Linked DNA regions of Homo sapiens. The protein of the gene in region 2 interacts with the protein of the main gene of each other region in a biochemical or structural test. Each region holds a gene or a part of one and is shown on either strand. Other genes may lie near its edges.

Region 1 (5,298 bases), on a different chromosome or scaffold from region 2:
TGACCTCAGGTGATCCGCCCATCTCAGCCTCCCAAAGGGCTGGGATTACATGCATGAGCCACTGCATCCAGCAGCAATAACAATTTCTGTCATACCATATAATCGTATCTCCTTTTTGCCCATTAATTTAGTAATTATCTTTCCTTCAATTAAGCTAAGTCCTTAATTAACCATTAGTAATTACTGCTGGTCTGAAAGAACAGACACTGAATATTCGCCCAAGTATGTCAAACACAGAATCATACTTACCTAACAAGCCTAGCTTACCCAATGTTTCTGTAACAACTGGACTAATATTTACAGAGTGTTTACCATGAATGTTTGACATACCACAAAGAGCAGAAAAAAGGCTAGCAAACGTTACACATAACAACGGGACTACAAAGTAACCTTTGTCAATCAATAGTAACTGACCTAAATGAGAACGTGAGGGGGCAAGCTTTTGGAATCTCAATTGTATTACTGAAAGTAATATCCAGAGTCTTATCTTGTAAAAACAACAACACAAAAAAAACTAATACTGAAAAGTTTTTGTTTTTATTTCCAAGATCAAATATTACAACAGGACATTTACATGTATTTATAAAAAAATGCAGCAGTTGAATGTATAGATCAGAGGTTTCCTTGAGTTTGGTCCCTCTCTCAGCACAGTGAGCTGATGTCTTCAAAAGACTTATCGTCCCACTCCCTTCCCTCCCCCACCCCATTGTCCCCCCACCCTCCCCGTTTCAAGTTGCAGTATTAATATAAAGCAACTGGGTACAACACAGCAAGAGTATTCACAATTTGGTACAGACCAAACCAGAGGATCCCCAACTGACAGCAAGATCCTCCTTCTGGAAATTATTACCTATAGACTAGGTAGATCTATAGGTAGATCACACCCAGTTATCTAAGATTTCCCTGGTTTTAGAGCAAGTGGAAGTTCCATTGAGTCTTAGCCAGTAGTTACAACTCTGCGTTACCTAATGGCATGTTTTTCTCCTCTTACAAGTTTAATTTTCTACCGCCTCCATGTGTCTTCAAATTTAAGGCTTTCCCAAGCACCTTTATTATGACTTACTAGATATACAGGAGGGTCTCTAATGTGTCTTGAACAAAAAAATTTAGTGGATGGTCCAGCTGCCCCTTGCTCAACAATCCCAAAGACTTCTTCCCACCACTGAGAAGAGCTGCAGAAATCAACGGTATCTCCTAGCACCATTGGAGAAAAGGCCCAGAAAACAGAATTCGATGTGCATTTTAGGGAGCACTTGCCAGAAACATTACAACAGGAGCACTGTCTCTGTTATCTTCTTGGATTCAATCACAAATTTAGAGTACAGATGAAATTTAGAGCCTGTCCTGCATTAAGAATGCAAATCTCAGTAAGACCACCCCCACACACACTTTGTCCAGAATAAGTTGAGCCACAAACATCCCAGGGAATCTCTAAATACTGTTAGGAACTGCTTTAGAAAACACTTTAAAGCAAATACCCCAAGTTGACTTCACTCAAGCCCCCAACCCACCCTCATCATCCCTATCCCCCTAGAAATTTCATTCCTTGATTAACTTCTCTGAGTAAGATGTAAAGTGAGGTTTGGAAAATGACATGAAACATGAAACATGTTTAAAAACACAATCAATGAAGACATGCCAGAACTGGACATCCCAGGTGACTTCAAATGCATTGTTCAAGCCGAACTCATACAAAGCATGCACAGAGCCTGCACAGACACTGCTGAGAGTTTCCAGGGAACAATCAATACCTACTCGAAAAAGGACTTTCCTGAAGGGCAAACAAAACAAAACAAAACAAAACAAAACAAACAAAACAAAAAGTAACACTGGATGTTTAGAATTTGTTAACAACAACAACAACAAAAAACCATTCTGGAAAAAAAGATTATCAGAGGAGTGAAGAAAACCGTGTCTAACAGATTCATGCCAAAGCTTGGATGGAAGCCCCTCAAAGTCTAAGTATCGTGTTAGCATCAACTGGTACTCATTTCTCTATATCTAAGACTAGAAGATTCTCTCACAGCTTTACTGTTTCCTGGCAAGTGTTTTCAACAGCCTTTCCAGCTGAAGGGACGAACCCAGGAAAGTAACAAGGCCCAAGACCCCACATGGGTCAGATAAGCAGCCCCTACTAGAAGCTTGCTACTCGTTAACTGAAAAGTGGAGGCCACGCACTACTTTCACTCTCTCTAGCAGGTGAAAGGGGATTTTCTGATGGCAACAGTCACTCCGTGTAAGGTTTAACTTACAGGGCAATAAGTTATCAAAAAGTTATTGTTAAAAGCATATGATTAGTGTCATAAACATATTTATATTTGGAATTACACCATTTGATATCTCCATTAAGAATGCAAAGCTTTGAGAAAAGCATACTGTAAAATCATGTTGCTGCAAACAGCAAGGCATCCAGCTGAGTGTAAGCAGTCTAATGTCATCAAACTGAAATGGACCCTCGTGACGGGCACTATGGAACCAGCTACCTAGATAGAGAGAAAAAAGGAGAATGGCAGGGAACGGTTCCAGATCAAGAATCTCTCCCTTATCAGTTAAGAGTTCCATACTGAGTCTATGAAAAAAGCAAATTAAAAAGATTTTAAGAAAGGGGGAATTCAATTCCAGGTCAGAATTTATCTAATGATTTGATATGTTTCCCATTTATCATGTCTAAAAAATGAATGACTCATGCTAACCCAGTTAGATTAATAACTTCTTTTGATGAGAAAAAATATTACTTAGGTTTAGTCCAGCTTAGCTTGACTATTCTTCCCATTTGAAAACCCAAATGACCTTTAGAAGGGATATAAAATACCCAGAGTATTGTGATCTCTAGAGAGGAAATACAATTAAACAATAAAAACTTGCTGTTTGTTGCCAAAGAATTAAGTACAATAATGCGACTTCTCATATTTATAGATTAATCTGTGATTGCTCTTGGGAAAAATACTATCATTGGTATTTGCCATCTCTAATCCTAGAAATAAATCTGGTTATCTTTTGAAAATACTTTCTCATTACAGGAATGCTAAATTATGTTTATTAAAGTAGTTCAAATTGGATTGCCCAACTTTATTTTGAAATCAATAGCAAAGAAAGGCCTGTGCCAAAAATCATCATGTTTATGAGAATATCTGCAATTTTAAGCAACACAACAGCAACTGGTAGGCCACAAAGAGGGTGGGGTATCACAGAGCTAGCCATTCTCTATATGAAACCAGAGAATTCTCCTTAACTAGGGAGAAAATGAGCTATAAAAGTAAGTTTGCCTCAAAAATGTCCTTCAATTTTATAAAAAATGAAGATTGTTACATATTAAGACTTTGAAATGGAATTTCTTAAACATAGCCAATTACACTAAAAATCATAACTATTTTCAGAGAATGAATGTTAAAAATAAATGGTGGAGAAGTAAAATGGAAAGCAGGATTAAAAGATTTCTAATTAAGGGTCTGTCACTTCACAGGACAACTAGCAAGGCCATTATAATCTCTATTTTTAAAAAGACATCAAGAAATTCTTGATTCTATACTGTCTCTCTAGCAGGACTGACACACAGGTGAGTCAAAAACCATAACCATCACTGAAATACCAAATCTCTATGTAACAGGAGAAACCGATATATTGGTATGGTATTCTCTGTTGGGTTATCTGCAGTTCTAAAGAACATTCTTGCCACTATTCTAAAATGTGTACAGTGCAACACCATGTTTCACGGCAAGACAATAACTGAAAAGCTAAGCCAGGCAATCCAGTGAAGTTGAATGTCCATAGTACACAGCTGTCTTTAGCCTATTCATCAAGGCTGGTATTACCGGAAAACTGCCATGTTCACCAGAAGAGCTGTCTCTTCCTATGCTCATTACATTTTAGTTTTACAAAGACTACTAATTCATCAGCCTGCACCCCATGATTTACTACTGCGTAGTTACATGATGGTCAAAAAAGGCAGAGAGACGGTAAGAATGACATAATAAAGATACATTCTGTGGAATAAAAAACATTTTTAAGTCAGCCTAATTGTATCTTTAAAAAGCTGTTTCTGCCAAAACCAGGTGTGAATCTTATACAAATCAATTTCCCAACAGGCCAGTAAAGTACTTTAAGTACACAAGTAAAAATAAAATTTAGTGCCAGCGTTAGTGTCATATTTGGTTCTCATTTACATTTTAGTCATACTCAACACTGATTAGGCACACAGCATTAAGTTTTAAAAAATAATGAATTGTTTACAAGATTATTATTACTAGACCTATAACTACTATACTCTCCTCTTTGGAGATTTCAGTCATCGCAGTAAGATTAAGAGCAAGTTGTTGGTCAAATGATACCTGAACACAGAATAAAAAAAAGAGAGAAAAAAAAAGTAAAGAAACTGATTAACCAGCACACTTTTAATTAGCCTAGGGATAATACGCAATCACGGGGAGAGACTGGAAGCATGAAATTTTGGAAAAGGACTTCAGAGATAATCTAATTTGTTGTTCTAGAAAAGGCTGAGAACTATTAATCTAGTCCAATTATCTCATTTTTCAGACGAGAAACCAGAGATTAAGAAGAAAGAGAAGTGTGAAGGTAACAACTAGCAGAGCTGTTACCCAAAGGGCTCTCACACCTCCAGTGCCCTTTCTGCATATAACATATACTATACTATGCATTGGATTTGTACCTGGGTAGAGAAATTAAATCTTTCCTTCATTTTTCGGTTGCTAGTGGCTCCCTCTGGTATTTTCCCTAAGTGTGCAAGTAAGATTCCTGCGAGCTAGGAATCTTTACTCCGGGGGATCAATAGTGAGATCCCCGCAAGCTAGGAATCTTTACTCCAGGGATCAATAATCCTTTCCTACTTGGGTACTGGTTATGCCTTAGTGGCAGAACTTCATGCCCCAAATCTAGAAGTTACAAAAGGTGGAGCTAAAGAAAAAGGTGAGTCAAAAGAAAACGTGAGCTACAGTGCTTGCCACTTCAGTCTTGTTTAAGACTTTGCTAACTAAAACATATTCTTCCCTTTTTCTAAGTTTGAACTAATAGGTAAACATTTACATGCTCTCCAATTATTTCATGTGTAGTGTGTCTCTCTAACTGGATAAAACAGGCAGGAATCATATCTTATTTATTATTTTTTGAGACAGAGTCTCGCTCCATTGCCCAGGATGGAGTGCAGTGGTGTGATCTCGGCTCACTGCAACCTCCGCCTCCCAGGTTCAAGAGATTCTTGTGCCTCAGCCTCCCCATTAGCTGGGATTACAGACAGCCACCATGCCTGGCTAATTTTTGTATTTTTCAGTAGAGATGGGGTTT
Region 2 (7,032 bases):
TCTAGTTCTTGATCTCTTTTTGTCTCTTCTCCCTCTAGGTCTGCTACTTTCCCTGCTTCTGGATCGTTTACTTTTCATTCTTTTCTTCCCATGATGCTTTCTATGATTCTTCTGATCATGCCCACTTCTACTCTGAGAACGTGAATCTGAACTTCTTGATCTTCCCCTCTTTCTGTGTCTATGGTTATATGGAGAATATACTCTGTCTCCTCTTACAGATGAGTTCAGGTTTCTGGGAGATGACAATGATGTAGATCGTTTCTCTTCCTTCTTTGATTTGATTCTTGTACTAGAATCACAATGACCTTTATTTATTTGTTCATCCTTTCCAAGGACAGAGTGTGGAGATGAGCATCTACTAACATCGCTATCACCAGAACTGTAAGATTGCTCCTGTTCTTGTGTCTTCACTGTCTCCATTTTCTCATAAGAACCTAAGTCCTCAGAATCAGAGGACAGTTCAACAAGTTCTGGGGTCCTCTCAGCTAGTGGTTTAACAAACCCAACAATGACACAATTATCTGAAGAATCATCACTGTCATTATTTAGGTCGTCATTGGTTTGTACTCCTTGTATCTGAGACGTGGCTCCTCCTGTGACAAGTTCTTCATCTGAACTGTCAGAAGTATTTAAAAGAGAAGACATAGTAACGTGTACCTGCTCTGAGCTTGAGTAAGATGGTCCTGGAGTTTCATCATCCCATGGTGCCTGACTAACAGTGGCTACATTAATATCCAGCTCTTGGGTCTCAGCCTCATCTGGAGATATTGTTATGACTGAAGAATCAGAATGGCTGCCTTCTTCGTATGAAGGAGCAGGGCAATCATAATTGGCATGCTGGTCAAAGGCTGCCATGTTAAAAGGAGATCGGGCAAAACTGATAAATTCATGTATAAAATGCTCAGTTCGATTAAGTAAAAATGGTCTTAAATCAGACACAAATGCCTGACTCTCCAAGTCATAGCGAGTAACATTACTCATGATAATATGCTGGACAATATTCACTAAAGATCCATGAGCTCCAAAAAGAACTGTAAGTTCACGTTTTAACCAGGGGACTAATCTGTGAAGGCAAGCTGGATTTCTACGGAAAAATTCAGCTGAAATATCCCTGTAGCGGCCACCATCTTCAATATTTCTAACTCGAGCACCAGCACGATAAAGAGTTCGTCTAAAATTAATAATATCTTGTTCTTGAATTTTCCGCAAAGATCTTTCATCTGCCGTAGTTGGCCTCCTTACTGCAATCTGTCTCATAAACTGAGGAATTTCAACATCTCTAGGTCTTGTTGAAATGCCTAACCCTTCAAACAGTACTCCACTATCCGGTGGAGTTGTTGTTCTTCTGTTCACAGGACCACTAGGTGAATACACAGAAGCATTTCGTTCCCTTGTCAGAGTTGTACGGTAGCGAAATCGTCGATCAGGGGTGACAAAAGAACCATTATACGAAGGCCTTAGGACATACTCCTTGAAGTCATCTTCTGCCCTCACAGAATGGAAAATAGAATCAAAGGGCTGTTTACATAGTGGGCATTCAGCTTTGTTTTTTGACCACTCCTGTACACAGCGAAAACAGAACTTATGTAAGCAGCGATCTAAGTAAGACACATTATCAAATCTATCCAAGCATATAGGACACTTAGAATCAGGAGATGCATCAGCTGGTACTGTCTGTTGCAATTTGCTAGTGCCAGCTTTAGGTGAAAAGTTGTCCATTTTAAATTCCTTAGCAGCTGATGCCATTATCTGTAAAAGGGAAAGAAATATATCAGTAACCTGATAATAGAGGAATGACTAAATAGTCTCAACAAAAATGCAAATAAAGACCTTGAAACTTATTTTGGTGAAAATACTTAAGTGACCCATTACTTTTGTTTTATTTTATAAAGGGGCACTGTAGCATAGTAATATAGTGCTTAAAGCATAAGCTCTGAAGTCAGATTTCCTAAGACTGAATCCTGGTTCCACACTACCAGCGTGACTATGTGCCAGTTAGTATCTCTGTGCTTTAATTTCATCTGCAGGTCAGTGATAACAGAATCTGCCTTACAGGGTTTGTGAAGATGTAAAAAGCCCTTAGAAAAGGCACCTGCTACATAGTAAAGCTCTCAAATATTATGTAACATTCTATTATTCTTTTTAAAAATAATTTGAGAAATATCTGACATATAAAAAAAAAAAGTACCAAATACCCATGTATCCACCACTTATGTTATGCCCCTTATCTTCCCCTCCTATCACTCTCTAGAAAACAAAAAACAAAAACACCACACTCCTCAGTTGATGTTATTTCTATGCATGGCTTTATACCTTTCATATACATATGCCACTAACAATACAGACTACTGATTTATCTGTGATATTTTGTATGTACTTTTCTAAAACAACTTTGGTGACATAACTTACATACCAGAAAGTTCACCTGTTTAAACCAATCCTATGATTTTTAGTGAAAGATTCTTTTTTCAACCTTAGAAAGCTAATTTTAAAAAGGGAGAGGAAACTTTTAGTGAAGATTAAATAATAAATGAAAAAGCAGCCAAGAGGCAGTGCCTGGCTCACAGTAGGTGCTGAGTAAATGTCAGCTGTTATTATTACTACACTATTATATTCAGTTAATCACTCATTCCATTCAGCATTCCTAATAAGCCTTCCTTTAGCTTTTTTCTTTAATCCAAAAGTCAGGCCACAGAATATCTTGAAATCATGTTTTTGGTCCCCTTCCCTATTATCCTTTCCCATAAGGATGACTAGAATATTAAAGATTAGTTTGTTTTATCAGTTTACATTGGCTCAAAACTTTGCTAGAGCTTGAAATCTAGTATGCGTTTTGACTTTATCTCATAAACTCCAAAGCTGCATTTTATACTAATCATTTTGAGTATATTGACTATTGGGGAGTCAGGCGCGGTGGCTCATGCCTGTAATCCAGCACTTTGGGAGGCCAAGGCAGGCAGATCACCTGAGGTCAGGAGTTCAAGACCAGCCTGGCCAACGTTGTGAAACCTTGTCTCTACTAAGAATACAAAAATTAGCCGGGCATGGTGGCAGGCACCTGTAATCCCAGCTACTTGGGAGGCTGAGACAGGAGAATCGCTTGAACCCAGGAGGCAGAGGTTGCAGTGAGCTGAGACTGCACCATTGCAGTGGGTGACAAGAGTGAAACTCTGTCTCAAAACAAATAAACAAACAACAACAAAAAACTACTAGGCCCTTGGTTTCCCAGGGCCTAATATTCATCTTCCTCCACCTCCTTTATCACAGGAGGTTCCATCACTAGTCAACTGGGGTCAAGTTAATCAAATAACAGAATTGTAATTTTCTAAATAGACTCATTGGCCTTAACAAACTATAAGAAAAACCAATAAACAAAACCCACAACAAAAACTCATGACTGAAATACAAGTATTCCACCATAGCTTTCATATTAAACCTGCTCACTTTAGGGCATCTTGGCTTTCTCAGAACCATAACTTAATAGAGAATCAATTAATGCTAAATAAGCGTTTCTTCAGGGGTCCAGGTATGTCTAGTCTTCTATTTACTGGACTGAAAATGCAAAAACATCATCACTGTCCTGGAAGGTCTGGAAAAGCAGGATTATAAATACATAATACTGCTTTTTTGTTCATAAACAGTCTAAAACCCTAATACTGCACAACCTTCTCAGCATTTCCCTCTACTTTTAACATTTTTTAATCTGCCTACTCAAGAAATTTAAAGAAACACACACATAAAAATAAAAACCTTTCAGTTCAGAGACTGTGTGTGTGGTAGAGGGAAGGAACAGAGAAAAGTTGGGAGGGAATCAAAGAGGTTATCAAAAGATCTGGACTGAAGACCAGGCTTCACCTAGAACTAGCTCTAGTTAATGTGAAGAAAACCACATTACTCTAGACTTTAGTTTTCTCCTCTATATAATGAAGGGATTACTGGACTTGGAAAAAAGACCCGTGAATTCCAAGTTAATACATTTTATCTTCACTTAGTTCTCTGAAATAGAATTTTAGTGTTTTCTGAACACTTCCAGTTCACATAAAAATTACAGCTGAAAATGAATTTATTAAAGGGAATTATTAGGTAGTAAACTTGAAGTTCAAATAAAATAAAATCTCAACAAAGTATGATTTTTTTAAAAAAATGAAACCTTACCCTTCCCTTCTCTAGTTTTATAAGCCTGTTAACCACTTTGACAGTAAAAGGTGAATGAATGACTGGTAATGTCCTCCATAACAGGTTAAAAAATAATAATAAATTAGAATTCATTCTTGTATTTCTACACAGGAATCATTAGCTGAAAAGAATAATCTTAGCCGGGCATGATGGGCACACCTGTAGTCCCAGCTACTCAGGAGGCTGAGGCAGGAGGATTAACTGAGCCTGGGAGGTCCAGGCTGCAGTGAGCCATAATTGCACCACCTCACTCCAGCCTGGGTGACAGAATGAGACCCTGTTTCAAAACAAACAAACAAACAAACAAACAGTCTTCATCAGAAACATCAAAGAGGCGGGGCACGGTGGCTCACGCCTGTAATCCCATCACTTTGGGAAGCCAAGGCAGGAGACCCTTGAGGCCAGGAATTTGAAACAGCCTAGGCAACAAAGCGAGATCCAGTCTCTATTTTAAAAAAGAAAAAGAAACATCAAACAATTGGAATGCATGTAGATCAAATAAGTTATTAGCTCTTCAAAATCATCACTAAATACTAAATTAAAATGTTTTTTAAAACGCAAATGAAGTCGAACATATGACCCGGCAATTACACACCTAGATATACCCAAGGGAAACGAAAACTTGTCCACACAAAAAAACTGTATATGAATATTCACAGCAACTTTAGTCATAATACCTCAAAAGGAGAAACTCAAATACCCATCAATTGATTAACAGACTAATAAAATGTGGTCTATCCACACTATGGAATTTTATTTGGCAATAAAAAGGAACAAAGTACTGGTACCATGTTGTAACATGGATGAAACTTTTTATTATGCTAAATGAATGAAAAAAAAAATTCACAAGAACCCACATATTGTATGATACCTTTTATATGAAATGTCCAGAATAGGCAAATCTAGAGAGATGAAATGAGGCTGGTGGCTGCTGCTGGGGCAGTAAAGAGGTTTATTTCTGGGGTGATGAAAACGTTCTACAATTAATTATTGTGATGGTTGTACAACTCTGTAAATATACTAAAAAATCATTGACCTACAAACTTTAAACGGGTGAACTTTATGGATGGAATGTAATCTTTTATTTTATTTTTTTGAGACAGAGTCTTGCTGTGTCGCCCAGGCTGGAATGCAGTGGCGCGATCGTGGCTCACTGCAAGCTCCGCCTCCCGGGTTCACACCATTCTCCTGCCTCAGCCTTCCCAGTAGTAGCTGGGATTACAGGCGCCCGCCACCACGCTCGGCATTTTTTTTTTTTTTTTTTTTTTTTGTATTTTTAGTAGAGACGGGGTTTCACCGTGTTAGCCAGGATGGTCTCGATCTCCTGACCTTGAGATCCGCCCGTCTCGGCCTCCCAAAGTGCTGGGATTACAGGCGTAAGCCACCGCGCCCAGCCCGGAATGTAATCTTAACAAAGCTGTTTAAAAATACAAATTAAGGCATAAAAACTGGGATGACTAGATACAGATTAAGAGTGGTTGATTTGCTGGCCGGGCGCGGTGGCTCACGCCTGTAATCTCAACACTTTGGGAGGCTGAGGCGGGCAGATCACCTGAGGTCGGGAGTTCGAGACCAGCCTGACCAACATGGAGAAACCCGGTCTCTACTAAAAACACAAAAATTCGCCGGGCGTGGTGGCGCATGCCTGGAATCCCAGCTACTCGGGAGGCTGAAGCAGGAGAATCACTTGAACCCCCGGGAGGCGGAGGTTGCAGTGAGCCGAGATTACGCCACTGCACTCCAACCTGGGCAACAAGAGCGAAACTCTGCCTCACACACAAACACACACACACACACAAAAGAGTGGCTGATCTGCAAGAGACGTTCTGAATTTAAGTAGCAAAGGTAGACCCGATGAAAAACACAGTGCTTCAGGTTCTGTAAGAAGCCTGTGTTACGGGTTTTCCATCCTAGCACTCTAGGAATTAGGACATTTCCTCACAGGAGACAATCAGTTCTTCCAGTCACACTTCCTAAACTGTCTCCCAAATCCTAAATGAAGTTCACCATCTTTAGTATAAACTGATTAAGCCAAAACTTCCCTTTCCCGAAAAATCCTCAAATCTGGCTTTAACAAGGATAATAACAATTCGGGGAAATTTCAGCTAATTAATATGGACACACGTCTAGGGAAAATGGATGGGGGAGATAAAGAATCAGGAAGCTCGAATCTACATTTCAGGAGACTGGATATTTGAAAAACTGCACAATGATATAAACGAAGTATAACTGCTCTGTAGAATTAAAGTTAGACTTACTACAAAAGTCATCTATGGCCGGGCGTGGTGGCTCATGCCTGTAATCCCAGCACTTTGGGAGGCCGAGGTGAGCGGATCACAAGGTCAGGAGATCGAGACCATCCTGGCTAACACGGTGAAACCGTCTCTACTAAAAATACAAAAAATTAGCTGGGCGTAGCGACGGGCGCCTGTAGTCCCAGCTAGTCGGGAGACTGAGGCAGGGGAATGGCGTGAACCTGGCAGGCGGAGCTTGCAGTGAGCCGAGACTGCGCCACTGCACTCCAGCCTGGGCGAAAGAGCAAGACTCCGTCTCAAAAAAAATAAATCAATAAAAATCAAAAGTCATCTATGGCATACACTGTATATAAAATTTAATCATCTGCTGATTACATTTGCGGGAGTGATGTTAATTTTGCTGCAGAGCCAAGGCTGAGAATCGCCACCACTTAGTAGGTGTGTAACCTGGAGGAAGTTTTTTCTCAAAATCTCACGTTTTCTCAATTCTAAAATGGAATTGAAAAGGTGGTTGTGTGACGGGACATATTTCATAAAAACCCTTAGCACAGTGCTTGATGCACAGTAAGAACTCAACAATGTTCTCTATGTTACGTGAACA

What was found. Proteins that work in one complex are often made in the same cells at the same time.
Region 1: the proteins of TOPORS (region 2) and UBXN7 form a complex in vitro, tested with the Homo sapiens proteins (one study listed by BioGRID).

What each region holds. Positions count from the first base shown.
Region 1 is NC_000003.12:196,347,144-196,352,441, forward strand, and holds the end of UBXN7 (UBX domain-containing protein 7), read right to left. Parts: 3' UTR 519-5,298; downstream 1-518. UniProt on the Homo sapiens protein: Ubiquitin-binding adapter that links a subset of NEDD8-associated cullin ring ligases (CRLs) to the segregase VCP/p97, to regulate turnover of their ubiquitination substrates.
Region 2 is NC_000009.12:32,542,578-32,549,609, forward strand, and holds part of TOPORS (E3 ubiquitin-protein ligase Topors), read right to left. Parts: intron 1,750-7,032; coding exon 1-1,749. UniProt on the Homo sapiens protein: Functions as an E3 ubiquitin-protein ligase and as an E3 SUMO1-protein ligase. Probable tumor suppressor involved in cell growth, cell proliferation and apoptosis that regulates p53/TP53 stability through ubiquitin-dependent degradation.